Linked DNA regions of Homo sapiens. The protein of the gene in region 1 interacts with the protein of each later gene in a pairwise test. Each region holds a gene or a part of one and is shown on either strand. Other genes may lie near its edges. The genes, in order: WDR88 and TYR.

Evidence for each region.
Region 2: the proteins of WDR88 (region 1) and TYR interact in binary tests that used the Homo sapiens proteins (3 or more experiments, as listed by UniProt).

Annotation. Positions count from the first base shown.
Region 1 is NC_000019.10:33,150,457-33,166,216, reverse strand, and holds part of WDR88 (WD repeat-containing protein 88), read right to left. Parts: intron 15,037-15,760; coding exon 14,907-15,036; intron 10,125-14,906; coding exon of another isoform or gene 10,061-10,124; exon of another isoform or gene 10,037-10,060; intron 9,863-10,036; coding exon 9,675-9,862; intron 6,447-9,674; exon of another isoform or gene 5,804-6,446; coding exon 5,721-5,803; exon of another isoform or gene 5,562-5,720; intron 2,021-5,561; coding exon 1,952-2,020; intron 1-1,951.
Region 2 is NC_000011.10:89,170,369-89,186,699, reverse strand, and holds the start of TYR (tyrosinase precursor), read right to left. Parts: upstream 8,826-16,331; 5' UTR 8,747-8,825; coding exon 7,928-8,746; intron 1-7,927. UniProt on the Homo sapiens protein: This is a copper-containing oxidase that functions in the formation of pigments such as melanins and other polyphenolic compounds. Catalyzes the initial and rate limiting step in the cascade of reactions leading to melanin production from tyrosine.

The DNA.
Region 1 (15,760 bases):
AGCCTCGACCTCCCAGGCTCAAGCCATCCTCCCACCTCAGCCTCCCAAGTAGCTGGACCTGGAGTGGCTGGGACTACAGCCACACACCACCACACTCGGTTAATTTTTTAAAGTTTTTCTGTAGAGATAGCGTCTCACTATGTTGCCAAGGCTGGTCTCCAACTCCTGGACTTAAGCGATCCTCCCACCTTAACCTCCCAAAGTGCTGGGATTACAGGCATGAGCCACCATGCCCAGCCAAGATTTTTTTTAAAGTAACACTAAAGTACTGTATCAAAGAATAGAAAGAAACATAATTTTTTTTTTTTTTTTTTTGAGACAGAGTTTCGCTCTTGTCACCCAGGCTGGAGGGCCATGGCTTGATCTCGTGATCTCGGCTCACTGCAACCTCTGCCTCCCGGGTTCAAGCAATTCTCCTGCCTCAGCCTCCCGAGTAGCTGGGATTACAGGCACCTGCCACCACGCCCGGCTAAGTTTTGTATTTTTAGTAAAGACGGGGCTTCACCACGTTGGCCAGGCTGGTCTCGGACTCCTGACCTCAGGTGATCCACCCGCCTCGGCCTCCCAAAGTGCTGGGATTACAGGCGTGAGCCACTTCACCTGGCCAATATTTTTATATTTTTCTCAAACATATTTGTTTAATTTGCCCTACTGTTAATTACTACTAATTGTCGCTGTTCACTAGTCCTGTTGTTTTGCTTAAATAATAATATTCATGGAACAAAAAAGTAAAAAATATAAAATAATGTATAATTTCAAGTAAACCTTTACTTCTTATTTTTATATTAAAGTAGTAACATATAGGCATATAATCTTTTGCTATATATTGTATTATTATGGGTTTGTTGTTTTTTTTTTCTGATATGTTTGTATTCCAAGTTGGCTCTCTGAAAAGTTGATCATGCTAGGCAGCGCCTCTCCCACAGTCTCCTGGATTTAGAAACCTCTAGCCTAGAACATGACATGCTCAAATAAAGGGGTCCCCGACCCCCCAGTCTGTGGCCTGTTAGGAAATGGGCCACACAGCAGGAGGTGAGCAGGGGTGAAGCTTCATCTGTATATATAGCTGCTCCCTGTCACTAGCTTTACCACCTGAGCTCCACCTCCTGTCAGATCAGTGGCCACATTAGATTCTCACAGGAGCACGAAGGCTATTGTGAACTGTGCATGCAAGGGATCTAGGCTGTGTGCTCCTTATGAGAATCTAATGCCTGATGATCTGTCACTGTCTCCCATCACCCCCAGATGGGACCATCTAGTTGCAGGAAAACAAGCTCAGGGCTCCCACTGATTCTACATAATGGTGGGTTGTATAATTATTTCATAATATATTACAATGTAATAATAATAAAGTGCACAATAAATGTAATGCTCTTGCACCATCCCAAAACCATCCCCCGCCCCCCAACCATGGAATAATTGTCTTCCACGAAACTGGTCCCTGGTGCCAAAAAGGTTGGGGACTGCTGCTCTAATATGGGTGGAGGGCGGAGTAGGTCCCCACTTCTCCGGGGTTCACACCTGCAGGACAGCTGTTGGGATATCCTGGGCTGGCTGCTATGTGCCAGTGGAATGGGAATCTCAAGATGCAGTGCTGCAGGAAAGGGAGACCCCCCCGGACCTTGGGCAGTGTCAAAGGCTTATCCATGAGTTGATGCTTTCCCTTCAAGTCCCCCATTGGCTCCATTGCTCACTGATCCAGCCAGACTCTTTTTCCAACAAAGTTCAAATGTCAACGGTACAGACACAGAAATACCTGGAAACTCCAAACTCATCGCGTTTGCGCATAGAAGGACATGCTGTCCACATTCCCAGGCAGCTCCGTGAACACGATGGCCCGGTCAGGTACAGCTCACCGAACCCACCCAGGAATTTTATACTTGGCAATAACTCTTCCACTATCACCAATCCTGGCGAACGTGATCGATATTGTAAGCTTGACCACTTTTACCTTGGAAGCAGACAGGATCCATTTCTTGTTGTTGCTAATGGCAACATCCATCACCCAGTCATTATGGCCCTGAAGAAATATCAAATTTTAATGAAAACGTGGAGAAAATAATTTTGAAAGAACAACAAAAACAAGCTGGGTGTAGTGGCTCACACCTGTAACCTGCCTTTTGGGAAGCCGAGTCGGGAGGGTCACCTGAGCCCAGGAGGTGGAAGCTGCAGTGAGCCATGATTGCACCACTGCACTTCAGCCTGGGCAACAGAGTGAGGTCCCATATCTAAAAAAACAACAAAAAGTCAAGAACCCAGTGTTGCTTACATTTAAGAGTAGCTGGCTGAGTGCAGTGGCTCATGCCTGTAATCTCAGTACTCTGGGAGGTTGAGGTGGACAGATTGCTTGAGTCTAGGAGTTTGAGACCAGCCCGGGCAACATAGTGAAACCCCATCTCTACTAAAAATACAAAATATTAGCCGAGCATGGTGGCATGCGCCTGTAATCCCAACTACTCAGGAGGCTAAGGTGGGAGAGTCACCGGAGCCCGGGGAGGTTGAGGCTGCAGTGAGTCATGATCATGCACTCCAGCCTGGGCAACAGAGTGAGACTGTCTCAAAAAAAAAAAAAAAAGGAAAGAGCAGAGCAGCTCATTGTACTTCCTCGGTTTCATCAACAACATTTAGGGTGGAATACAAAGTGTAAAGACATGTGATATATGTACATTCTATTTTTTTTGTTGTTGTTGTTTTTTGGGGTTTGTTTGTTTGTTTGTTTTGAGACAGAGTTTTGCTCTTGTCGCCCAGGCTGGAGTGCAATGGTGCAATCTCCACTCACTGCAACCTTCACCTCCTGGGTTCAAGCAATTATCCAGCCTCAGCCTGCCAAGTAGCTGGGATTACAGGTGCCCATCACCATGCCCAGCTAATTTTTTTTTTTTTTGAGACGGAGTCTCGCTCTGTCACCCAGGCTGGAGTGCAGTGGTGTGATCTCGGCTCACTGCAAGCTCCGCCTCCCAAGTTCACGCCATTCTCCTGCCTCAGCCTCCCGAGTAGCTGGGACTACAGGCGCCCGCCACCACACCCGGCTAATTTTTTGTATTTTTAGTAGAGACGGGGTTTCACTGTGTTAGCCAGGATGGTCTCGATCTTCTGACTTCGTGATCTGCCTGCCTCGGCCTCCCAAAGTGCTGGGATTACAGGCGTGAGCCACCACACCCCACCTAATGTTTGTATTTTTAATAGAGATGGAGTTTCACCATGTTGGCCAGGCTGGTCTCGAACTCCTGACCTCAAGTGATCCACCTGCCTCAGCCTCACAAAGTGCTGGGATTACAGGCATGAGCCACTGCGCCCTACCCATTCTATATTTATTTATTTAGTTATTTTTATTTGACACAGGGTCTTACTCTGTCCCCCAGGCTGGAGTGTAGCAGCTCAATCATAGCTCACTGCAGCCTCAACCTCCTGGGCTCAAGTGATTCTCCTGCCTCAGCCTCCCGAGTAGCTGGGACTACAAATGTGTGTGCCACTGTGTATGGTTTTTTAAAATAGTACTCGGGTGTTTAGCAAGATTGGGGGAGAAATATTATATTCCCAGCTGGTCTCAGGTTTTCATTTGCATTCTTTGTTCTAGGAAATACCCCTCAGAGGCCCTGTAAGTGAGGGGGCTTTTCGCTTCCAATAACTGCAAACTCGATCCACTGTGGCTTAAGCAGAGAAGGAGTGGGGTGTTTTCTTTGGGTACATAGGAGCTCAGAGCAGGCCGGGCGCGGTGCTCCATGCCTGTAATGCCAGCACTTTGGGAGGCCGAGGCGGATAGATCACGAGGTCAGGAGATCGAGACCAGCCTGGCTAACATGGTGAAACACCATCTCTACTAAAAAATAAAAATTTAAAAAAAAAAAATTAGCCGGGCATGGTGGTGGGCACCTGTAGTCCCAGCTACTCAGGAGGCTGAGGTAGGAGAATGGTGTGAACCCAGGAGGCGGAACTTGCAGTGAGCCAAGATCATGCCACTGCACTCTAGCCTGGGCGACAGAGCGAGACTCCCGTCTCAAAAAAAAACAAACAAAAAAAACAGCTCAGAGCAGATAGCTGCCATTGCTGCCTCAGACACTGAATGATGTCTGGGCTTTATGCCAGCATCTCTGTCCTTCTTTGGCCTTCCCCGTATGGAAAGAGGCAGAAAGTGAGGCCATAGTGTGGTTAGAGAAAAAGGAATCAGAGGGAAGGTTAAACCGCTTAGTGTAATTAAAGGACAGGAATTTGAGGATGGGAGCACAGAGAAAGAGGAGAGAAGAGGAGAGAGAATAGAACAACCGGCTCTGTCACCCAGGCTGGAGTCCAGTGGTGCAATCTCAGCTCACTGCAGCCTCTGCCTCCCAGGCTCTAGAGATTCTTATGCCTCAGCCTCCCAAGTAGCTGGGACTACAGGTGGGCATGACCACACCTGGCTAATTTTTGTATTTTTAGTAGAGATGGTGTTTCACTATGTTGGCCAGGCTGGTCTCGAACTCCTGACCTCCAATGATCCTCCAGCCTCAGCCTCCCAAAGTGCTGGGATTACAGGCATGAGCCACTGTGCCTAGATGACAGAGGGACTTTAAGCACAGAGAGGTTTAACATTCCATTTTAATCCGTTTATTTGCTGTGAGGAAACTCGCTTTGTCTCCCCAAGTCCTAGGAGAAGACAGCTCAGATAGACCAGCCCCAGGGACCTGAATATGGGCTGCTCAAGGACACATGTCTACTTTGTGTCCCTGGGAACAGAAAGACCAAGAATCAGGGATGCACGCATTCACAGCCAAAGGTGACAGTGAGATCGTGAAACCAGGGAGTATGCAGAAATCCTGGGGTGTGGGGCCCCTTGGGGGAACAGGGGCACAGCATGAGGCAATTGTGGGTTCTTGCTGTGTTGGATAACACATCCCCGTATCATAGAGCCACTCTGAGTTGGGGCTCCTCTCATCCTCTCACTTGTAGCCCAGAGCATTCAGTTGACATCCCCATTTTGGAACCCCAAGCTTTCTGTGCATGCCTCACTAGGGCATGCGTCTCTCTTCAAGGTAATTTCTGTTTTTTGTTTTGTTTTGTTTTGTTAGAGACAGAATCTCAGTCTATCGCCCAGGCTGGAGTGCAGTGGCACAATCTTGGCCCAGTGCAACCTCCGCCTCCCGGGTTCAAGCGATCCTCCCACCTCAGCCTCCCAAGTAGCTGGGACTACAGGTTTGCACCACCACACCCGGCTGATTTTTGTATTTTTAGTAGAGACGGGGGTTTCACCATGTTGGCCAGGCTGGTCTCAAACTCCTGACCTCAGGTGATCCGCCCACCTCAGCCTCCCAAAGTACTGGGATTACAGGAGTGAGCCACAGTGCCCAGGCCTGCACAGTAACTTCTGCTGTTCTTAGACACTCCCACCTCAGGGTTTTTGCATCAGCTGTTCCATCTGCCTGGACTGCCCTTCTTCTTCAAGATCCCCACTTATGTAGTCCTTTCTGTTCTCAGCTCAAACACCTCCTTCTCCAGGAAGCTCTGCCCATGCAATGTGGATGGGTCCCCCGCCTCTGTCCCCATCATGTCACCCTGTTGTGGTTTCTCCATTTCACTCCTCACAGTCGGTGGTGTGTTTGCTGGCTTCCTGTCTGTCCTTCATCAGCCCACAGAGGCATCAAGGCCTGTGTCACTCACAGCTGTGTCCCCAGCAACCAGCATTGAGCACAGGAAGGACTCGGGAGGGAAGTTCAGATCCTCAATCTCATGCTGGCCACATGTACCTTCAAAGAGAGCTTCCGGTAGCCTTCTGCTACATCCCAAATAGCCACAGTCCTATCAAACCCTCCAGAAATGAGAAAAGAGCCTGCAACAGAAAATGAAAGGGTGGAGATGGGGGTCAACTTTCCAAGCCAAGTGAGCCCAAAGCCAGCTGAAGATGCCTTGGCGAGGCACCACCTCATCTCACTCTGACAACACTGAAACCCCTTCCTGGAGTGGCTCCACGACCCCAAGCCAATTACAGCTGATTCTTATCATTTACAGTAGTCATGTTCTATGACAGGGGTCCCCAGTCCCTGGGCCACAGACTGGTACCAATCCATGGCCTGTTGGGAACCAGGCCACCCAGCAGACAGTGAGTGGTAGGCAAGCAAGCCAAAGCTTCATCTGTATTTACAGCCACTCCCCATCGCTCGTATTACCACCTGAGCTCGGCCTCCTGTCAGATCAGCTGCAGCATTCGATTCTCACGGGAGCATGAACCCTATTGTGAACTGCGGATGCGAGGGATTAGGTTGTGCACTCTTTATGAGAATCTAATGCCTGATGATCTGTCACTGTCTCCCATCACCCCCAGATGGGACCATCTAGTTGCAGGAAAACAAGCTCAGGGCTCCCACTGATTCTACATGATGCTGACTTGTATAATTATTTCACTATATATTACAATGTAATAATAATAAAAATAAAGGGCACAATAAATGTAATACACTTGGGTCATCCCGAAACCATCCTCCACAGCTCCCATTTGTGGAAAAGTTGTCTTCCATGAAACCTGTCCCTGGCGCCAGAAAGGTTGGGGGCCTCTGCAGTTTTTGCAGACACTGAATTAGTGAATACTGAACCATCGCTCCTAGGGGAAATACAGGGTCAGTTTCCTGCGAGCTCTGGTCACATTCTCATCAGTTGATCAGTACGTAACTTTGTTTTATGTGTGTTTCTGTTTAAAGACACCTTATTGCATATATACTGTTGATTTGTTTACATTGAACTCACAACCAACAGCTGTAACTCATGCCTGAATGGATGCATGCATTTTCCCCATCATAGCACTCTCGCGCTTAGGAACGGCAAACAGCACTTCGGCACTGTGGTTAGGGATCATTTTATTTGTTATTTATTTATTTATTTATTTATTTATTTATTTATTTATTTATTTATTTTTAGAGATAAGGTCTTGCTCTGTCACCCAGGCTAGAGTGCAGTGATGCAATCAGCTCACAGCAGCTTCAAACTCCTGGTCTCAAGCAATCCTCCCACTTCAGTTACCAAGTAGCTGGGACTACAAGCAGGTGCCAGCACACCTGGCTAAATTTTTTTTTTTTGTTTTGGTAGAGATGGGGTCTCACTATGTTGCCCAGGCTGATCTCAAACTCCTGGGTTCAAGCAATACTCCCGCCTCAGCACCCCCCCAGCACTGAAATTAAAGCTGTGAGCCACCACACACGGCCAAGGGAGCCATTTTACACAGCAAAATCACTAACAAAAAGCAAAAGAAAGCCCAGGTGTGGTGGCTCACGTCTGTAATCCCAGCACTTTGGGAGGCTGAGGCAGGCAGATCACATGAGGACAGGAGTTCAAGACCAGCCTGGACAACATGGCGAAACCCCATCTCTACCAAAAATACAAAAATTAGCCAGGCATGGTAGTGCGCACCTGTAATCCAAGCTACTTGGAAGGCTGAAGCAGGAGAATCGCTTGAACCCAGGAGGCAGAGGTTGCAGTGAGCCAAGATCGCGCAACTGCGCTCCAGCCTGGGCAACAGAGGGAGCAAAACAAACAAACAACAACAAAAAAAAATGGTGGCACTAAATAGACCACAAAAAGGACATTTTACCACGTGGGAGGTGAAACAAGAAGGCAGAGTGTTGCCTTGTCCAACCTCAGCTGGGAGGTGACTTAGATTTTTTGCTGCTCTTCACATCTGTGAGTGACCTTGAAAGTGCCATGAATGTTGACTTTAGGTTTACAAATAAATATCAGCAAGTAGGTGACTTCACAAATACAGAATCAGGAATAATAATGATTAACTGCATGTGATTCTTTTTTTTTTCTTTCTTTTTTTCTTTTTTTGAGACAGAGTCTCACTCCGTCACCCAGGCTAGAGTGTAGGAGCGCAGTGGCACAATTTTGGCTCAACTGCATGTGATTCTGAACCCCATAAAGCCAAGGACAGAAGCTGGCAGGGTGCCTCACAGTGGGACTTAGACAAGGGGTGCTGCTGAAGAGGGAAAGTTGCCCAGAAGCACCCTAGTGCTTCTCAAGCCAGGCCCCAGTGGCATGTGTGCCAGCTGAGGCCCCCAGACACACAGAGCAAGCCCCACTTCTCACCAGGATAGGGGAGCATATGTTTGGCTCCTGAGTGTCAAGAGCACCCACTTCCCTCCCTGGAGCTGGCTAGCCGCGGTGGCTTCCTGTCACTGCCCCCATTCACCTCTATGTCCCTTTATCTGGCAACAGCTCCCAATTTCCTGTGGGGAAACACTCCTTGCCTACTCTTAGTCCCTCTGCATCAGGGGGTTCTGACCCCAACCCTAGCTCTGCAGGTGGGCAAGTCACCCAGACCTGGCCAATCAGAGGCTTTCGTTGCCCCCTAAGTGATTCATTAAGAGATGGACATGTGTCCCAAGCTGAGCCAATGGGAGTCTTCCCTGGGACTTGTTCTGGCACCATCAGACAGAAGGTCTCTTTCTCCAGGACTGCCAGGGGCCAGAACTAGGCTGAGCTGGACCACTAAAGGTCCTCTTTACCTCTTTAATTTTATATATATATATATATATATATATATATATATATATATATATATATATACATACATACACACACACACATACATACATATATACATACACACACACATATATACACATACATATATATATACACATATATATACATATATACACATATATACATATATATACACATATATACATATATATATACACATATATATACATATATATATATATACACATATATATACATATATATATATATTGAGACAGAGTCTCGCTCTGTCACCCAGGCTGGAGTGCAGTGGTGCAATCTTGGCTCACTGCAGCCTCCGCCTCCCGGGTTCAAGCGATTCTCCTGCCTGAGGCTCCCGAATAGCTGGAATTACAGGCATCCACCACCACACCTGGCTAATTTTTGTATTTTTTAGTAGAGATGGGGTTTCACCATGTTGGCCAGGCTGATCTTGAACTCCTGACCTCAGGTGATCCGCCCACCTCAGCCTCCCAAAGTGCTGGGATTACAGGCATGAGCCATTGTGCCTGGCCTTTTTTTTTTTCTTTTTAGACACAGGGTCTCACTCTGTTGCCCAGGCTGGAGTGCAGTAGCACAATCATAGCTCACTGCAGCCTCAAACTCCTGGGCTCAAGTGATCCTCCCACCTCAGCCTCTTGAAGAGCTGAGACTACAGGTGTGCACCACCACACCCAGCTAATTTTTTAATTTTTTTGTAGAGACAGGGTCTTGCTGTGTTGCCCAGGCTGGTCTTGAACTCCTGGCTTCAAGCAGTCCTCCCACCTTGGCCTCCCAAAGCATTGGGATTACAGGCATAAGGCACCTCATCCGGCCATCTTTGCCTCCTTGGGGGTAAAGGCTGATACAGAGGGAAGCTAGGTTGAAAGACAGAGTGGAAGGGTTGGGTTCCCAACAGCATTGACTCTCTTGTCCCATCCATGCCTGAAGTCAGACGTGCTCTTGGACTTTTCCATTACAGGATTAATCAATTTCTTTGGTTGCATACGCCACATTGAGCTGAGTTTCTACCACTGTAAACTGGTACCTGTGGTCTTCCCTCTTGGGTTTTTTGTTCTCGTGGGGAAGAATCCGCCCTCCCTGTCAGCATCATTGGAAATTGCCTCTCTGTCCATTTGAACGGAACATGGAGAACTCTGCCCAGCACTCCCACAGGAATGGAGGCCTTCTGCATGTTAATTACTCACTGTCTCTGGCAAAGTGACAGGAACTGACAGAACCTTCATGGCCCTGCATCAGAGTCACACAGGCTCCACAGTTTCGAAACTCCCCTGTGTGGACGTTCCATATTTTTAAGTTTTTATCCCAGGAGCTTGTACACAGGAAATGGCCACTGAAGGTAAAACAGCAGTTTGAGATTGCATTGGAATGTGCCCTGAAACACAGATGGTGGGGTGCACACATTAGCGCTTTGCTCCTGGAGGACCTGAAGACATACCTAAAGCCGGGGGTATTTTCTCCTGTGAGCTCATGGTCGGGCTGCACATGCTAGCACTTCGCCCCAAGAGGACCTGAAGACATACCTAAGTGGGGGTCAGCATCTCCTGTGAGCTCATGTTCATCATGCCTTTGATCACTGCCTACCATGGTCCAGATGTGAATTGCTCAGACTGTCACGCTGTTCCAGCATTTCTCGACTGCACCAATTTTTAGAAAAATAATAATAGAGACAGTGTTTCGCTATGTTACCCAGGCTGCTCTCAAACTCCTAGGCTCTAGTGGTCCACCTGCCTTGGCCTCCCAAAGTAGTGCTGGGATTACAGGCGTGAGCCACGGCACTGGGCCAACCACACCAAGGTGGACATTTTGAGCTGGGTCACTCAGAGTTGTGGGGGCCGTCCTGTGTTCTGTAGGAGGTGGAGCAGCATCCCTGGCCTCTCCTGGCTAGATGCCAGGAACCCCCACACCCAGTTGTGACAACAAAACATGAGTCCAGACATTGTCAAATGTCCACTGGGGCACAAATTGCCCTCATTTGGGAAGATTCTGCAGTATTCCCTTGGCGCTGGAGGGAAAAGCAGCTGGTGTCAGGAGTGATTGATTGACAGACAGCCTTTGGGGCTTGGTGCTGGGTGGCGCTTACACAGAGGCTCTCTCCTGCTCCCCATCTTTCCCCCAACAATGTCAGGCGTGGTCTCCCCCTGTTCCACCCCTCTCTTACTTACTCCTCTGCTTCTCCACCCCAACTATTCACTCTCCCTTTTTCTCACTCCTATCCTCATTTGTCTTCAGTGCTATTCAAGTATATTTCAGTGTTGTATATTTAATTAATAAAATTGTGGGTTATTTGGCTGGGTGCAGTGGCTCATGCCTATAATCCCAGCACTTTGGGAGGCCTAGGTGGAAGGATTGCTTGAGCCCAGGATTTTGACACCAGCCTGGGCAACATAGCAAGACCCCATCTCTACAAAAAATATAAAAATTAGCTGGGCATGGTGGCACATGCCTGTAGTCCCAGCTACTCTGGAGGCTGAGGCAGGAGAATCACTTGAACCCAGGAGGTGGAGGTTGCAGTGAGCCAAGATTGTGCCATTGCACTCCAGCCTGGGCAACAGTGCAAGACTCTATCTCAGAAAAAAAATGAAGTTATTCATTCCAATTTTTAAGCATCTTCTTTTTCAGAAAAATAATAATAATAAAAAGCCTGTCTGTATTTTGCCACTTTTTGTTTGTAACCCTCAATGTCTTTCTCCTGTGATTCTCACCTCCTCTTGTAAGCAGAGTTTTCTCTGAGTAGCCTGGATCATAAAATCAATCATTTGACCTGAAGAAAAGGTTGAGCAAAACAATTTTCTAGAGCTCAGATCAGAGTTTTGGAACCCATTTTGGTTCTTTGAAAGGCACAAACTGAGCAACGCCAAAGGAGAAGAAATGTCAACTTCGCAGGGCCATCCGGGATAAACCTCACCAATTCCCAGTGCCTGGTGAGCTAAGAACCATGCTGGCATATCATGGAGGTTTGACTGCAAGCTCTCCCAGCAGCCAGACACTGTCATTGAGGTTTAAACCAGAGGTATACCCAGAGGATTATAAATCATTCTTCTATAAATACACATGCACACGTATGTTTATTGCAGCATTATTCACAATAGCAAAGACTTCGTGTCAACCCAAATGCCCATCAATGATAGACCGGATAAAGAAAATGTGGTACATATACACCATGGAATACTATGCAGCCATGAGAAAGAATGAGATCATGTCCTTTGCAGGGACATCATCCTCAGCAAACTAACACAGGAACAGAAGACCAAACACCACACGTTCTCATTCATAAGTGGGAGTTGAACAGTGAGAACACATAGACACAGGGAGGGGAACATCACACACTGAGGCCTGTCAGGGGGTGGGAGGCAAGTGGAGGGAGAGCATTAGGGCAAATACCTAACACATGCGGGGCTTAAAACCTAGATGACGTGTTGATAGATGCAGCAAACCACCGTGGCACATGTGTACCTATGTAACAAACCTGCACATTCTGCACATGTGTCCTGGAACTTAAAGTAAAAAAAAAGACATAGCAATTTCTAAATAAATAAATACATAAATAAATAAATAAATAAACCAGAGGTATCTCTATGGACTCTCATTTCACATAAATCCCACTTCTCGTAGAAGGCCATTTCACCTGTACAGAAGTTTGGGGAAAATGGCTATGCTGCACGTACAGTTCTGGACAAGATGGAGTCAACTTTAAAAGTAATTTTTTTAAATGGCTGAAATTTTACCAAATTTGGCAAAATATATAAACCTACAGATTCAAGAATCTGAGTAAAACCCAACAGGATAAATCCAAAGAAATCTACACCCAGACACATAATTACACTTCAGAAAACTAAGGACAACAAAAATATCTTCAGAGCAGCAAGAGAGAAATGACTTTTTACCTATAGGAGAAAAACAATATGAATGACAGTGTAAATGAAAACCACAGTGTGGCCAGGCACTGTGGCTCATGCCTGTAATCCCAGCACTTTGGGAGGCCGAGGTGGGTGGATCACAAGGTCAGGAGTTTGAGACCAGCCTGGCCAATGTGGTGAAACCCTGTCTCTACTAAAAATACAAAAATTAGTTGGGCATGGTGGCGGGCGCCTGTAGTCCCACCTACTCGGGAGGCTGAGGCAGGAGAATTGCTTGAACCCGGGAGGCGGAGGTTGCAGCGAGCCGAGATTGCACCCTGCAAATGATATAGCTGATCTTGCTAGAGGATTTAAAAAATTCATAATGTCGGTCGGGCTATATCATTTTCAGTTCTCAGTGCAAAATTAATAAGCAAGATCCCCACTCCTGAAAAAGCTAAGCACAGTATTACCATATGATCCAACAATTCCACTCCTGGGTATACAGAGTAAAGAATTAAAAACAGGCCAGGTGCAGTGGCTCACACCTGTCATCCCAGAACTTTGGGAGGCCAAAGTGAGAGGATCACTTGAGCTCAGAAGTTCAGGACTAGCTTGGGAGACATAATGAGACCCCGTTTCTGCAAAAAAAAAAAAAAAACAAACTTAAAAATTAGCCAGGCATGGTGGTGTGCACCTGTAGTCTCAGCTACTCAGGAAGTTGAGGCAAGAGGATCACTTGAGCCTAGGAATCCGAGGCTCCAGTGAGCTATGATCACGTCACTGCACTCCAGCCTGGGCAACAGAGCAAGACTCTGTCTCGAAATCAAATAAAATAAAAAGAATTGAAAGCAGGAACTCAAAGTTACATGTACATGTGTTCATAGCAGCATTATTCCCAATAACTAAAAGGTAGAAACAGCCTAAGAGGTCATCAACAGATGAACAGATAAACAAAATGTGGTATGTACACCTATAATGCAGTACTATTCAGTCATCAAAAGGAATGAAGTTCTTAATCCCAGCACTGTGGGAGGCCGAGGTGGGTGGATGACAAGGTCAGGAGTTTGAGACCAGCCTGGCCAACATGATGAAACCCCGTCTCTACTAATAATACAGAAATTAGCCAGGTGTGGTGGTGGGCGCCTGTAATCCCAGCTACTCAGGAGGCTGAAGCAGGAGAATCACTTGAACCCAGGAGGCAGAGGTTGCAGTGAGCCAAGATGGCACCACTGCACTCCAGCCTGGGGGACATAGCGAGACTAAGTCTCAAAGGAAAAAAAAGGAATGAAGTTCTGATGTTCTGATGCAGGCTACAACACAGATGAACCTTGAGGACATTATTTTAAGTGAAATAACCTAATCACAAGAGGACAAATAATGTATGACTCTACTTATATGAAATATCTAGAATAGGCAGATTCATAGAGACAGAAAGTAGAATAAACATTACCCAGGGCTGGGGGCATGGGGAATGGGGAGTTATTGCTTAACGGGTAAGAGCTTCTGTCTGAGATGATGAAATCATTTTGGAAATAAATAGTGGTGATGGTTGCACAACACTGTGAATGTAATGAATGGCAGAGAATTGCACACTTAAAAATGGTTAAAATATCATGTTTTATGTTGTGTGCGTGTATATATATATATATATATTTTGAGACAGAGTCTCACTCTGTCACCTAGGCTGGAGTGCAGTGGCACAATCTTGGCTCACTGCAACCTCCACCTCCCGGATTCAAGCTATTCTCCTTCCTCAGCCTCCTGAATAGCTGGGATTACAGGTGCCCGCCACCACGCCCAGCTAAGTTTTGTATTTTTACTAGAGGTGGGGTTTCACTATGTTGACCAGGCTGGTCTCGAACTCCTGACCTCAGGTGATCCGCCCCACTCGGCCTCCCAAAGTGCTGGGATTACAGGCATGAGCCACCGAGCCCAGCCCCAAAATTTTTTTAAATGATAATGTAATATCTCCAAAACGACTGAATTCACTTTATTTATTTATTTTTTTTAGACAGGGTCTTACTTCATTGTCCAGGCTGGGGTGCAGTGGTGCAATCATAGCTCACAGCAGCCTCAAACTCCTAGGCTCAAGCAATCCTCCAGCCTCAGCCTCCTGAGTAGCTGGGACTACAGGTGTGTGACACCACACCCAGCTAATTTTTAAATTTTTTGTAGAGATGGGGTCTTGTGACATTGCCCAGGCTGGTGTTGAACTCCTGGCCTGAAGTGATCCTCCCACTTTGGCCTCCCAAAGCTCTGGGATTATAGCCATGAGCCACACGCCCAGCCAGACCTTCCCATTTTACAGGAGATGCTGGAACTTCACCTTTTGTGGACTTCTCTGCACAATGATTTCCACTAGTGGCTCACATTGAAACAAATGCATCTGAGGCCCAGCCCAGCCCACAGGCCACAGCTGATGGCTCCCTCCTGCCTGCCTGTCCCCAGCCTCCTCAGAGCACCTATGACCAAGCTACAGACGTGTCCACATGGATGCTGGCTTATGTGGAATTCAGGAAGTCATGAATGGGGACGCCCCACCCAAACTCCCTTCTGGCCTCCTGGGGTCCAACTCACTTAGTGATGGTGAGCAGCGTGGCCTGGGATGTAACATCCCAGATCTTGATGCACCTGTCCAATGAGACAGAAGCCACCCTCTGGCTGTCGGGGTCAAAGCAGCATGACGTGATGGACCTTGTGTGATGATCTGCAGAACACGGAGGAAAGGGACTTGAGACCACGCCTTCCACCTGCTGGGCTGGAGGACTCCCACGACTTCCCCAGCCAGTGACGATTACAAAACACAATTCCAGTTTTCATCAGGAGCTACACACCTGCACAAACATTCCTGAGTGACTACTATGTCCCAGGCTTTGAACCGGGAGCACAGCAGGTTCCCTGCCCCCGCAGAGCTGCCAGTCTGATGGAGGAGACACCCCGGACCAGGCAACGACCTGCCACATGCCACAGATCATGAGATGAGTGCACGGGCCACCAAGGCCCAGACAACATAAGCCTGGCCACCCTGAGGGGTCCAGGAAGGGCCCGAAAAGCCAGCAAGGGAAGCAGAAATGGAAGAGCACTCCAGGAAGAAGGAACAGTGCTTGCAAAGGCCTGGGCCGGATCATGGAGCAGTGTGGGGCAAAGCTGGAGTCTGAAGCATGGTGGGGTCAGAGTGTCAAGTGGGCTCTTAGGGGCTATTAGGGAAGCTGTGGGGCAGTGCACATGGCATAGTGCCACATCGATAAAAAGAAACACAAAGCACATATGAGAAGCAGTGTTGTGTGTGCAAACACTTGTACGCACAGGCATACACACAGGGTTCAGGAAGACTGCCCAGCAATGTATGGTTCATAACAGGTGCCTCTGGGGAGGAGACAGGACAGACACAGCAGCCTTTTGCTTTTTTATTTACATAATGAATGATTTTT
Region 2 (16,331 bases), on another chromosome or scaffold:
AGAGGTCTATATGTAATCACCTGTGCACCGTGCTAAGGTGCAGCCAGCCTCGGTAGAGAAGGCCTCTGTTTTACTCTGAACCAACAAATCATGGGATCAACACCCAACCTCACACCTCTTTTTGCTTGCACCAAGGACCCCACCAGGGATGGAGAGTGACAGTGAAATGTTGACCTCTTTCCTCCCACCAGTGGCCTTGGGCAGAGGGTGAGGAGGTGGAAACTAGGTAGGGCTGGTGGATGGGTAGTGGTAGCCAAGACCCATCCCAGGAAAACAAAGAACAAAAGGTCTGCAGGATGCATATGAACCAAGCATATGCTCCATTGTCCCTATAACTTCACTTATAAAGCACAAACCCAAAGATAAGATTAATAAGAATTTCAACACCAAGACCACAGATCATTAAACCTCAAATGTAGGGTCTGCTTCTGAGCATGGAGCATTGTGCGATGGCACTGCTTTTATATTGGCAATTCTACCTCCAAAAAATATCTCGAGTCAGGCAACCATTCTCCATGTGCTCACATCCTGTGTGATCCTGCTGCTAAAGTCAGATGGCCTACTTTCTCTGGACACTGCTTGTGCTTCTCCATTCCATGACTCTGATTGTGGCTAAGCATGCCCACTCTTTGCCATGCATCTAATATCCTACCCATTCTTTAAGGCCAAAGCAAATAATTAGTAAAAACAGGCATTGTTGACTCTGACTTTAAAAGTAACTCAAAAGGGGCTGACTCTGAATGTAAAAACATTTCAGGAATCCTTCACCAAATTATTTTTCTTGTAGTTTCATTTATATGGAGGCAGAAGAATAAACTATGATAAAAATATGTGACTACGTAAGCCAAAAAGGGCTTTTAAGATAAATATATTTTTTTATTTTTCTTAGTGGTACATAAATGAATGCATCACTTAAATTCATTGATACCTTAGATTTAATAAAATAGAGTAATTAGGTAGTGAGAGATACATTCGAAGCAAAAGATGAAATTCAGGAGAGTCCACCCTGCCGTCATTGACTGTTCACAACAGGTGCATGCTTCCGTGGGAGGCTTGGGGCCACTAGGGAGATAACATTGTTCTTTACCCAACTTACACTTACTCATTTTCGTCTCTAATAAACAATGATTGTTACGTCCCTTATAAAAACGCATCCTTCATGAAGACACATTTATTTTCACATTGTTGTTTATTTCTTTTCTCTCAGAATCTAGTACAGTTTCTAGCACCCTGTTGATGTGCAGTAAGAATTTGTTGGATGAATGAACAGAGTCAGTGGATGAGCCAAAGAATCTCCTACAAAAAGTATGTGTTGAGTGCTCATTTTTCTTGGTCATGTTGTTGGTACCACCTTTACCATAGAATATATTTCTAGAACTTATTTTTTTAAACCTATATTGAGTCACTACTCTGTCCTAGGCCATAAGGGAGATATCTCCATATACATTAAAATTAGAAATTCTCACAACTACCCTGTGGATTTTTATGATTTTATCTCTATTTTCATGATGAGGATACTAAGCCAGACTGTGGAAGACTACAAAAGGCTAACGGGATATAAAGACCCATGTTATGATTTATAATTTTGTGAACAGTAGGCGAGACGTATAGAATAATAATTTGAAGGTAAAATGTCTTCCCGGTCAACTGTTTGCATCACATTTGAAAATAATCAAGACTATTTTATTGGTCCTCCTATCCCACTGAATTTGCTATCTATAAGCATGTATAAACAAATGTAGTCATCTCAAATAGAATTGAATGGGCAGTCCCCCCACCATAGATGGCTGCTACTGTGTTAGATAAGAAATGCTTAGAGAACCTACTCTTAATTTTTGGTCACTAAGACATAACTTAAGAATTTATGCATTGTGTGGTAGAGAAAAAATTGGGCTCCGTAATACAGGTAGATGCAACTTCAATTCTGGCTAATTTTCTTACTGGCAATGAACATGTTTTTTAGACTTGCTAAATCTCAATTTTTTTAAACTGTACTATGACATAATATACGAAAAGAAACTATTCAACAAATAATTTCTGTTTCAACAAATGCCAGTTTCTAGTTTGCCTTATACCTCATAACGTTCCTAAATCCTTTTATCCATATATAATTGAGAACTAGAACTGTTGAGTGACTTGTCTTAGGGCCATATGATATTTAGAGTCAAAACCAAAGCACTGAAACACAAGTTTCCTTATTCTGAAGCAATACCCACTACATTAATTATGACGTGTTAATGGCTTAGGAATGGTTGAATAAAACTAACCTAACTTTTACATTGAATGTAATATGTTGGATGCTTTTATAATTTGGGTTAACTGGACGCTACAAGTATGTAGACTAAATCATTTTTATTCCTCTTTGAGTAATCTCAGGATATTTTCAAAAGATCCTGCTGCCTTAAAGACTCCTACAGCCAACTCAGTTAAATTAGAGAGGCTTGAATGAAACTATTTTTGCTGAAATGCCAACTGCCAAGTGACTAAGTGTTCGGATGACTGGAGGTATTACTAACGAGGAGAAAATCTACCCTGGTTCCAGAAATAATTTGAAAAACTCCAAACCTTAGTCTTTACACTGCATACAGGAGAGGAGGCAGGCTAGGAGAAATTATATTAGCATTGTGCTTATGATCATGAAGATTCTAGTCAGAAAGACCTGGTTTCCAATACTGACCCTATTAGTTACATGGCCTTGGGCAAGTTACTTAAGCTCTCTGGGTATTAAGTTTTTTCATCTGTAAATGGGAATTATACGTTTCTATCAATGATCAAATAATCTAACATGTATAAAGCACTTAGCATAGTGCCAAGTGTAAAGTGTTTAATAATGACAACTATCATAATTATTTTTGAAAACAAGACCATTGGGCAGGTCACCAAATTGTTTTTAACTTTGGGTGTATAACACTGTTTGAATATTCATTATTATATCTAACTTTGATGTATCATTTAAAAATATATTATTTCCACACATGAAACTCAAACAATAGGTCAGATCCTAAACAAGCCATATAAACACATCTTATTGAATCCCTTCACAGTAATGCTTTAACCTATATTATTCTAATTTTAGGGACAAAAATCGTCTCAGAATAATTAAGTAACTTAGGGTCTTGTAGCTAAGTAAGTATGAAAGTTCACTCAAATTCATGCTGATGTGACTGAAAAGACTATACTCTTTCCACTACATTATTCTGTTTCCCATTCCATTTAATCCTCCTATTAGCACACACACAAAACATGTATAGATGGTAATTCTACCTCATTTTTTTTCTCTTTGGAAAAAACAAAGGTCAAAGATTTTAAATAACTGGTCCAATGTCGTCTACTAAATGGCAGGGGTAGAATTTGAGCCTGGATGTTCTGATGATGACTCTGTTTTTTTTCTATTTCAACGCAAGTGATTTATAACATATGCTGGGGGGACGATCAAGTGTTCCAAGTCAAAGAAAAAAGGGGAGATAGAAGAAATAGATATATTAATGAGGAAGGTGAACCTAAATACTGTTCTCTTAAATTTAAAGAAATAGCAATAAACTGCCAGATATTAAAAGCTTTTGGGAGCAAAGATTTTGTTATAGCATTAGAGGTTTATCTGGGGGAAAAAATGTAAACCGTATGACATTCCACAAAATCTTTTTCATAAAGAAAAAAGAGAAGCTGTTATTTCACTGAGCTGTCGTCATGGTTACCTAAAACCCATGACTCTCTGCTGAAATGTGACTTTTTTTCTTCTCTTTGCTTCCATGTGATGTGCTTTTCACCTGATGAGTGAATTCCCTGGTCACAATTCACTCATGTGTATCAGCTAGGAAATGTTTTTTCCTCTTTGTTTCTGTTCATGATGACACCTATTCCTGATACCCCTTTTATTTTTGTAGCTAGCTGATCTGTTGGTTGCATAACATTAGATCTAATTATATTGAGCATGGGTAGTTTGTACTTAAATGTTATTAAGCAACCCTCCACCTCCAAATATAATGAACTATTTTAATTGATGATAAACATGGCCCCTAATTTAAAGCTTTGGGAGTTAAATAAATGAGCAAACAACAGACATGAATTAGGAACACAATATTTCCAAATAAATTAATTACCTGATTTTAACATATTTAACAGAAAACTCTGACCAATAAATATTAACTTCATTTAAATCACACTCAGCTATGTTGCACCTTGCTTCATCTTCTCTCTTGTATTGTCTTTCTTTGCATGCACACACGCAGACATACATATGGAACTACCAGAGAGAACGACACAAGATATATTATACCCAAATTTGAGTAAGTGGCTATTGTTGACATTGTTGTATCCTTGGCATTGGGAATCCAGTGCTATAAAAAAACTGCAGTGAATGGTCCTAGAAATCTACCCATGCAGAGTTTAATATTTTATGTATGTTAGCATTGGAGCTAACGTTTCTTTGATGTTAAATTCAGCATGTATTTATAAAGCCTGTTCCATGTGTATATTATAGTCCTGTGCTCTGTGGATACAAAAATATTTAGAAATGATCACCACCTTGGAGCGACTGACAGGCTGGCAGATACAGACAGGCTGGAAAACCACTACATGTAATGAAAAGTTACAAGTGCTATGATACAAATCTGTATAAAGTACAATGATAGCACAAAGACGGGGAGAGGGTCAACTCTACCTGAGTAACAGAGGTGGATCAGTAAAAGTCTCAGAATATTTTCATTATGATATAAATTAAAAGGACTACATCACTGTGTCTGCCTATGTTGTCTGGGGCAGGACAATTTTAAGGGAGTCAACGTGATCAAATGTCAAATTATACACCCAGAAATTAGCGGGTTACTTGACCCCTTCTGAACCTAAATGGATCCTTATAAACAAGAAATAACATTGTTGACTTAAAAAGCACTGCAGTCAGAGCCGCTTGGTTTTAGTCCTCAGATGTGTGACTTTGGACAATCATCCTACCATTTTAGGCTTTTCTATAGTTTTTTAATAAAATGCACAGGTTACCCTAAATAAAATTGAAGATCTCTCAGCTCAGAGTTAATAAATGCTATCAAATCTCTCAAATCTCAATTTTGGGGTCAAGTAAAATGATATCTGAAACCAATAAAAAAAGAAGGCTTTATGTGAAAGGTGCATCAGCCTAGCTAATTTGGAAGGTCTTAACTCAATCTAGAAACTATTTGATCTCATCTCACACAAATAGTCTAGTTCTTAATTTAAGCATTCAATTTGGACAAAGGCATTCAAATTAATGGTGTGTTTATTACAGAACATGCGTTTTTGTAAAGTGAAAGTAAAAAGATACCAAAACAATCTCCATTAACTCAATGATTCTCAGTGCTGGCTGCACATTAGAATCACAAAATGAGGGTTTAAAAATGCAAACACTTGAAGGCCCAGCTTGATGGCTCAGGCCTGCAATCCCAGCACTTTGGGAGTCTGAGGCGGACAGATCACTTGAGGTCAAGAGTTCAAGAGCAGCCTGGCCAACAGGGTGAAACCCCATCTCTACTAAAAGTACAAAAAATTAGCTGGGAGTGGTGGCAGGCCCCTGTAGTCCCAGCTACTAGGGAGACTGAGGCAGAAGAATCACTTGAACCTGGGAGGCGGAAGTTGCAGCGTATGGAGATTGCACCACTGCCAAAAAAAAAGACTCTTGAACTTTACAACCTCACAGGAGACCACCTGAATCTGAATTTCTGGCAAGAAATTAGGTGCATAAAAACCTTGCAACAGTTTTTTATTTTTACTTTTTAAATGGTTTTTTGGAAGCTTCCTAGGTGATTTTGACATTGAGAACTCTGAATTAAAGCAATGTAAGCAATCGATCTTAACTATTTTAAGGACTTTGTAACCAGAGAGGCTGTGTGAAGGAATGGAAACAGCCAATGTGAGTGGGGTTTGACTGTCACCTTTGCCACTAATAAGCCCTTGACACTACTAAAACATAGTAGGTGAGCAGCAAATGCTCATTTCACCTTTCTTAAACTGTGGTTTGCTTGTTTCTCTTCAGTCATCTTCCTTCCACTCTGTTTTCTAATTTTATTTTTGAAACCTGTTTCTACACAGCAATTTAATCATAGAACAAGGTTGAAGTTGATAATTGTATCAATTTCAGTTCAGGGCTTACTGACTTGACACACTTTTTTTTTTTTCTAGAGAGTATTAAAATTGAACACATTCATGAAGAGAGAAAAAGGAAAAAGTTCTGCTTGACAATTAATAAGTAATTAGGAAAATAATACTCATACAGTTGTGGATAGCATCTGGTATTACACATCTCATGTAATTAAAAATTAATGTGTATCTATCTATTAAGATTTCCTGTGGATGTTGCAGCTTATTTTGGTAATTTAGACAGTCCTCCAACCTTTCTGGGTCAAGTTAAGCCACATAGTTAAATAAAGCATCATAACTGACTGAAAATCCCATGTCCAATCCTGGCAGTTTTTTAAACAGGAACAGAGGATATAAGAGCTAGATGAGAGTTTGCACATTATAGATTAAGGTAGGAGGTCTGAAAGCTTATTGAAATAGATTTTTTTCCAAGCACATTTTTTCTAGCCTTTCCTGCACAAAACCCATTACATTTGGTAAATAGCTGACTAATAACACCAGAAATTATACAGTGGCTATTTTTTAAATGAACTTCAGTAGACTCCATTGGGATGGGGTACAAACTTGGTTGGGCGGAGAAGGCCATCTACATTTCAAAACTGCAGATTGTGGGAAATTGAGTGCAAGATTCTTCCCATCCCATTCACATATTGGGCTTAATTTCATAGAGCATTGCTAGTCAAAAGTGCTGTATTAGAAATTTTTGGAAGACAGGCAGAAAAGCATTCCTTTAACATATGGTTTTAAAATGATAAATAATTAAGCACATATTTCTTTGGTTACCATTTGCCCCTAATTCAGAATGAAAAATTCAGAATAGATGAAATAGGAATTCAATTCCAAATAGTAATGCTTCATATTTTATCTAAAGTTTTCAAGGACTGAGAAAGAAAGCTAACTTCTAATGCAGCCTAAAGAAAAAGTGAGACAGAATGAACCAGATCCTTTAGCTAAAGATATCACAGCAGTCACATCCTTGGAAATAGGATACAGTGGTCATACAGCTGGACTATTAGAGAATAAATGTGATTTTTTTTTTGCTGCTTATTAGCTGTATGATCTTATACAAGTTACCTGATACCTTTATAACCTCTAAAATAGGGAAAGACTGATAAGAGCATGAAATGAACGAATGCACAAAAACACTTGCCACGGGGTTTGCACATGCTAGATGTTCAATGAATATTAGCCATCTTCATTATTTACCTGTTTAAGCCTCAGGATCTTCATACTTTCAAAAATGAAGATCTAATCCAATAATTATTTCCCAAACATTCCTGATTAAAAGAATCACCATAGACATTTAGTAAATTGTGCCTTCTCGGGACTCTCTCCTGAAGATTCTGACCAATTAGTCTGGGATAAGGCCAGGAATTTGCATTTTTAATTTGTACACCATATGAATCCTGTTGTGAATAATAATTTTATTTTTCAGAGACATTAGTGTATATCATTTGTTTTTTTAATCATCCAGATATTCATTCATTCACTCATTTATTCAATTCACAAAATACATAATGCACTATTGCCATTTTTAAAGGCACCATACTATGTTCTGGGAAATGCAATAATGAATCAAGTACTCTGTTCATTGCAGTTTAGAAACCTAGTAGAAGTCATTAAACAAATAATTACACAAATATCTAAAGTGTGCTATAAAGGAAAAATACAAGATACATTGAGAGTTCTTAACAGGGCACCATTTCTGTCCTTGATGGGGGCTGCAATGAGTGTTCAGGTGAGAAGTTTATACCCTGCCTGAAGAAGTGATTGTTAAGGTTCCTCCCTACTCTGACATCGTATATCTAGCATATCTTACCTGCCAAGAGGAGAAGAATGATGCTGGGCTGAGTAAGTTAGGATTTGTGGGGTGCTGACCTCCCATGTACTCATCTGTGCAAATGTCACACTTTTCTGCATCCCGCCAGTCCCAATATGGAATAGTGAAGTTTTCATCTCCTGTCAGCTTCTGGATTTCTTGTTCCCACCGCAACAAGAAGAGTCTATGCCAAGGCAGAAAAGCTGGTGCTTCATGGGCAAAATCAATGTCTCTCCAGATTTCAGATCCCCCAAGCAGTGCATCCATTGACACATAATAATGCATCCAGACAAAGAGGTCATAAATATTGATGTCGTTAAACATGGGTGTTGATCCATTTTTCATTTGGCCATAGGTCCCTATGGGGATGACATAGTCTGAGCTGATGGTATGCTTTGCTAAAGTGAGGTAGGCAAAAAATTTGTCCTTCTCTGGGGCACTCAAATCGAAGATGTTTCTTCTCACCAAGAGTCGTCTCTCTGTGCAGTTTGGTCCCCAAAAGCCAAACTTGCAGTTTCCACAGTTGAATCCCATGAAGTTGCCAGAGCACTGGCAGGTCCTATTATAAAAGACGGAAGGCCACGACTCCCGGTCATCCACCCCTGTGAAGGGAAATTGAGGCCCAAGTGGTGCATTGGACAGAAGGATATTCTGACAGGAACCTCTGCCTGAAAGCTGGCCACAGGGACTCCTGTCCCCGCTCCACGGTGGACAGCATTCCTTCTCCATCAGGTTCTTAGAGGAGACACAGGCTCTAGGGAAATGGCCAGCGGAGGTCTGGAAACTCCACAGCAGGCAGTACAAAACAGCCAGGAGCATTCTTCCTCTAGTCCTCACAAGGTCTGCAGGAACTGGCTAATTGGAGTCACAGATTTCTCTTTCCAGCTACTACTACAGTGATTATCACATGTCTTGGCTGAGACCTATATAATACCACTCCCACCTCCAGCATCAAACACTTTTAGTCTTTATCTTAAGCTTTCATCCTCTGAAAAGCACATGACTGACTTTTCTTTCGAATTGGCTCGTATCCCACCAGTGGGATAGGCCTATGTTAAAGTGAAAAACTCTATTCACCATTAATAGTTTAATTCTTATGGTTAGAATATTAACAATAAGGTTAGTAATAATAATGCCTGACCTAAGCAAACCCAGTTAATAGACTACAAAACTAATGATGATTTGACCTTGCAAATGAGAGGTAGTGTCAGGAATAGAGCTTCTCTTATTAAGAAAGTTTAGGAAGTATTAAAGATTATGGGTTTAAGGTAGTTATTTCTCAGAGACCATAAAGAGGCTACAATGTTTGAAGAACTCAATATGCAGAGAGAGATTGTCTTCAGAGCCCAGACAGAATTCCTTATATGTTATTGAATTTCAGTTTGTTTATTTTATACAACGTATCAGAAAAAAAAATCTTTCTGATACTTTTCTCTGATAATCCTGATGCATTTTCTGACAACTCCTAAGGATAGCTCACTTTGATAACTGGGCGATTTGCTTCATTGTGGGGATATCTCACGTTAAAGAGCTCTCTCTCTCTCTCTCCCTCTCTCTCTCTTTCTCTCTCTCTCTCCCTCTCTCTCTCTCTCTCTCCCTCTCTCTCCCTCTCTCTCCCTCTCCCTCTCTCTCCCCTCTATCCTCTCTCTCTCTCCTCTGTCTCTCTCCTCTCTCTCTCTCCCCTCTATCCTCTCTCTCTCTCCTCTGTCTCTCTCCTCTCTCCTTTCTCTCTCTCTCCTTTCTCCTCTCTCCTTTCTCTCTCTCTCCAATGCTGTAGCCATATTGTTTTTCCTATCAATTCTAGAAATTAGGAATTTTTTTGAAAATGTTTTTGCAATGTGTTTTGTGCAAAGACATTCTCAATTAGTGAGTGAATGAAAAAGGAGAAATATATTTCTTCAGCAAATATTTTTGATCATCTCAATTATTTCAAAAGTTCCTTCTCTGTGTATAGTGAGCTAGGGAAACTGAAATTCATGGCTAAAAATACAACTTAACTATGTTAGTTTTCAAATGAGTAGTATAGATAATTAAGTCAAACTTTTAATGGAAGAGATGTATTTGTGGGCTGATATTAGAAAGAATTGCATAATTTTGATAATAATATGCAAGTGTTATCAAGGGAGTGCCTTGATTAATATCTCAAAGAGTGGGCATAAGTTGGACAGACAACTGAGAATATATACAACTCCTGAGACAGGGGAAATGTGTAGAGGTGGGAACTGTGTTTCATCTATCAAGTTGGAGCATTAAACTGAGGCCTCCACACATCATAGAAAATTAAACCTGGGACCAATCTATGGAGGGGCTTAAAGACTTTGTGTTTTGAACTAAAGTGAGCTCTTTTGTGAGCTGAAGAGTGACAAAAAGAGTAGTCAAATCAAAGTTGCCCCTCTGAAGCTTCCTTCTTTGTCCTCTTCCATACTTAAAGTTTGGGGGTCCACTGAAATTAATGAAAAAGTAAAAGAAAGTGAAAGCTTTGAGGAGATCATTAGTATTTGGGTCCTTAGCTGAAGCATTCTAGGAAAAGCCATCACTATTTCGATGATGCCGGAATGTCAGACTGCTCTGCTTTTTTCTCTTTTTCTGGAGTTTGTCTCATTATTTAAGAAAAAAAAAAGTCACGGCTCATCCAAACAACTTTTTTGAGACAGAACAGGCTTTGCAGGTACATGGAGCAGTGTGTGGGTGAAGAGGAAGAGAAGTTTCCATGGAAATGCTGCCTCTGGCTGGAATCAGGAAGTCATCACATGATCTCCACAAGGAGGCTTAATCTTTTCTCTCTCTCTTTCTTTCAGAGCCACAAAGAGATTAACACAAGACTTCTTGTCCCTGGGGAGCCTTGGGTCTGCATTACTTGTAACCACATGTGGCATTTCATAATTCTTTTCTATGTTCTCGAAGACAGAATTCAACTTATCATGTTCAATTTAATTAAGAATTTTGCCTTACACTTGCCCCACTATCAGGCTTCCAGTGAAATAACTTAGAAAGTCTTCATCATGCTCTTTAAGGGCTTTTGTGTCTGCTGTCCCGTCTATTTTTCATAATCTTTAGAGCCTGCTTAGAGGAATTACTAAAATGTACTTAGTCCTATTAATTTCCTTTACAGGGTTGATTTTCTTAAATAGGACAGACCTCTTTATTTGTCCCCAGTATAGGCCACTGTCTCCTCTGGCCTACACGTGTTGTAGTCTTCAGTCTTATTGCCAGTCTTGGGTTCCTAAATATTAAATCCCATTTAGAGTGCTTTCTTCCTGACTCTAGATGTACATTCTTTAGGTATCTTCAGTTGTGGGATTTGAAAGGGTCCTATCCTATTTTGGGAGATTATTGTATGACCTGACATGAAATTACTGCAATGCTCTATAAAGTAGAATTAGGGGTTCAGTAAATACTCTGCAAGTATTTACTTGCAGACATGGGGAGAGATGGGAATGTGATGGTAAGCACAACAAAAATCTCTATCATCAGGAAGGATATTGCCTCTTAAAATACTATTTTAATTTTAGTGATTTTAAATAATAATTTTAACTACATTACTTTAAATAACTTTTTTTCTGGATTAAATTACTTTTTAGGTTGCTATAAGAGAAAATTAAAGAGAGAAATTAGGGAACATGACAGAAGGGCCTTTCTAGTCTCACAAGAGAAGGGATAGTCAGGGATAATTTTATGGGAGAAGTGACATTTCAAGTGACACTTGAGGGATCACTAGAAGTCTGTTTGATGACAGAGAGAACAGTAGGAGTGTGAGCTTTCCAGGCAGAGAGAATAGCATGTGCAAAGTCTCCAAAGTGGAAGTAGGTTGGTATATTCAAGGGATTTAAGGACAGTTAAGGTGGCTGCAACCCCCAATATGGTAGAGGCGTGATATAAGAATGAAGGTGTGTGTATGGACCAGCTCATAGTCCATAAAGGCTTTGTAGCAAAATTTTGGGTAACGATACATGAATTTAAAACTTTTCACTCAAGCTACTGAGGTGAGAACAGATGTGGGGTGGGAGCTAGATTAAATGTGGAGATTACTGTTAGGATATTATTGATGTAAACCAGGCAAACATGACATTGCTTAGACTAGAGTAATGATCTCTGAGATGGGCATAAGTTAATGAATTTGAGAGATACATAGGTGATAAATTCAAGAGCAGTAAGAAGTGAAGGGAAAGAAGATTTAGGGCTATGTGCTAGGTTTTTGGCTTGTGCCATTAACTAAAATAAGAAACAATAGAGGATAAATGTTTATGGGAATTGAATATAGGCTCAATTTTAGATAAGTTGAGTTTGAGTATCAACTAGCCACAATCACTGGTCCTCTACTTCTGGTATTTGTATAGATTATTCAGCCACTCACTTGTGTTAACCTGGTCAATTTTCCTCATTTTCCTCACTCAGATCACTGGTATTTGCTCTTTTATTTGGTAGTAGTTTGAATCCATTTTCTGTCTTTGTTTCTCAGCCCTCCTTTCAATTATAATGGTAGCTACCATTTATTAAATACAACTAATATAATTATCTCAGTATCAGTAGCTACCATTTAAAGAAAAAAATTTACTGTGGAAAGAAATATGCTCAAATCAGTAAAAAATAATATAATAAACTAGCATTTACTTACCTCCAAGTTTCAACATCCAGCATTTTTCTGTTTTGTTTCTACTAGTTTAAAAATTCTGGAATGTTTTAAAACAAAACTCAGATAGCATATTCTACCTCTAATTTCGGTATATATTGCTAACAATTAAGAACATAAAAACAAAACCACGTATCTTACACAAACACATCTCAAACAAAAAGAACAATAATTCTTTAATATCAGGTATCAAATTTATGGTTAATTTACTTTAATTATCTCAAAAGTATTTTTGTCAAGATTCAAACAGGTATATACACTGCATTTTGGTTGATCTATTTTATCAATTTCTATTAAGTTATAAGTTTCCTTTTTTAAAAAAAAATGCGGCCGGGCGCGGTGGCTCACGCCTGTAATCCCAGCACTTTGGGAGGCCGAGGCGGGCGGATCACGAGGTCAGGAGATCGAGACCATCCCGGCTAAAACGGTGAAACCCCGTCTCTACTAAAAATACAAAAAATTAGCCGGGCGTAGTGGCGGGCGCCTGTAGTCCCAGCTACTTGGGAGGCTGAGGCAGGAGAATGGCGTGAACCCGGGAGGCGGAGCTTGCAGTGAGCCGAGATCCCGCCACTGCACTCCAGCCTGGACGACAGAGCGAGACTCCGTCTCAAAAAAAAAAAAAAAAAAAAAAAAAATGCAATTTATTTTTAGAGGAAACTGAGTTTTTGCCCTAAGGATTTCTCACATTTCGGGGTTAACAACTTTTATCTCTATGAATTTAACATGCTCATTATCCTGTATTTTCTATCATTTTATACATTTTCAATAATAATATCTTGCATTTTCTACAATCAGGGAGTTAGATCTAGAGATTTTATTATATACAAGTTGAATTTTGTTATTGCTTTTCTTAACAATTACTTCACAGGCATTGTTAAGTAATACTTATTTTGATATACTAGAGGACCATATTATCTGGTTTTCTCAGTATTTGTTTTTAAAATTTATCAGCAGCTTGAAGTGATGTCAGACTGTCCTTTCAATTACATAATTCTCTAGCAAACTTTTATATGGTTTTATTTTCACTGATAAGTATATCCTACATTTGGTATTTTATTAAAGGTTGCAAGAATGGTTATCCCCTTTTTTTTGTAAAGAATAACTTTCTTCATGAACTATTTAGTTACCCTGTACAAGAAAAGCGGGGTAAATGTTTGATTCTTGTCCTTCATTTTTCAATTTTCAGAATAATAATGTGGCTACCTAACAACCTCTAAACATGATATATTTTTAACTGTAGTGAAGACTTCTAAAGTTTTGTGTATTTAGTGCATTTCTTTTGGGAGACAAATTGATGCATTTGTGTTCAATATTTTGCTAATTAGTGGATATTAGTCAACCTACATTATGATTTGTGAGTCAATGATCATTATGATTATATTTGTGTGTGCACGTTTGAAGTTCAAGAAAAAAATATGTAGCCATCATCTCTTTATATTTGAAGTTTACACTCACTCATTTGTTCAATAAATATTGAACATCTATTATTCCTAACACCTTATGGTAAATACCTGGGGCATAAACAAATTGTATAAGTCACTGACCCTTAATTTGATGTTATGAAGTCAGAATCTCTGATGTAATATCCAAGGACTGCCAGTTATTAGTCTCAGGCCCCATGGCAAGAGAAAAGGAGGAAGAGAATCAGCATATACTTAAGATTTGTTCAGTAATTTCACTTATCACAACCTGAGTGTTCTCAACTCTACTAGACAGGACTATTTGGAGTTTCAAATAATTTAATAGATATTAAACATTCAATATAAGGTCTGACACATATTAAGTACTTAATAAATGTTCACCATTTTCATTAAAGACCATAAATTGGTGCTGTTAGTGTTTATCACTATAATGCTTTCAATACTTTTAGGCTATTTTTGGTCTAGAGAGCTAGGGAATAAGTATTTTATTGGATATAATTAAATATCATTGTTTTAAATTGGTCTCTCCTTCTCATGTTAGCAACCTCAATTGCCTTTTTTTCTCCAATTAAAACCTTGTTCCTTAGGATACTGAAGTTCTGCAATAACACTGAGATGTCATACTTCTGTAGAATTTAGAAATTAGCACATGTTCTTTCTCTTAACAAACAATGTTTTTCTCTTTTATTCACTTGCATAATTTCTACACATACTGTAAGATACATCTCAGGTGTCATAGCTTCAAGAAAGCATTTTCTGATCTACAGACCTTCTCTGAGGATAAGCTGGAGGACTATCTTGCATTTTCTCATTCTACCCTCAATTAACCTTTGTCATTGCACTCACCACAATGCATAAAATCTACTGATATTTCTCATGCCCTTTCTATATCATGAATCCTTTAAGAGTAAAAATGTGATTCACACCAAATGCCTAGAACATTGCATGTTAAAAAATATCTTAGGAGATGGAGAATGGATGGATGAGTGAATTAACAGTTCAATTTCTTCTTTTGTTTTCCTTATTTTGTAAAATACATGTTCTAAAATATTTCAAACATGCAGAAAAACATAAACAATAAGCACTCATGAATTCATTACTTATTTAATAAATTTTAAAATTTTAGACTAATGGATGCACTTTTAAGATCACATAGTATCATTTCGGACACACGAAAAATAAAGCTAGAGGAGGAAAGGTAAAAGTATGAATGAGACTAGCTCTTACATTGAATGAAGTGTCATGCAGGGCAGAACCCATCCATACATTCAGCATAGAGCAGAGAAGATGAGAAGGCCTAATATGAGAAGAGACTCACAGAACAGAATTAGGGATGAATTATACCAGAATCTTGGTAGAAGTCTAGCTAGAAGGAGGAGACAAGTGTTTACCTAGGATTTATTCAACTGTCATTTTCATTCCACATTATTTATTGGATGTCTACTTTGAGATGGGCATTTTGCATGCATTTTTTTCTGATTCAGTCTTCAAAACAAGACTGTGAGGTACATATTGTATCCCTTTATAGTTAAATAACCTGATGTTTATGCTTAAGATTAAGCAACTACTAAACTGCAGAGCCATGTCTTTCTGCGTACTTCCATGTCTCACAGATATTTTCATTGTGTTATCTTCCATGCTAATGTTAGTTTTACTTGCTGATTGCATTTGGACTATACTAATCCTGCTTCTAGTTTTAGACTTCATACTTTTCATGTTCTATATTCTCATATCTGTTCTGAATGTCAGCTTTAGTTACTTGGCTACATTTTTGATAGGCTTCTAGAATACAGATGTGTCTTTAGCCACCCTCTGCTCCAGTTTCAAAGTGTTCTTTGTAAGTGACACAACCTCAATCATGCACTAAAGCTCCTCCTAAAACTGATCCTCATAGGTTGTTGAAGTGTTAAGAAAATTGTGGTCGCCACAATGTTGAATGACTTATATTTTTTTTTTGCTTCAGTTGAACTGTCTATAATTATTTTAATGGCAGAGGGTATTGATCTCTGGGAAGCCAATTTCCTGATTACATATATTCTACTACATGCAGAACTAGTTTTACTATCACTTAATGCCTATACCACTTGTAATTAAAATCTATTAAAATTATTTAAATAGCATTACCAAAGAGCAAAATATGCTTTATAAGAACAGCAAGAATAATCTAAGACACGTTATGGAGAAAATGGGCTAGCAGGAAAATATAACTGTAGAGTTGAAGAATGGCTGCTGAGAGACAGCACAACCTCGGATGAATTCAGAACAGAACTAGCTGATGAACCAAAATGTAGAACTAAAATGTACAACCTTCACAAGTTTAAAAAACCAACTCATTTTAATGTCAATAAACTGT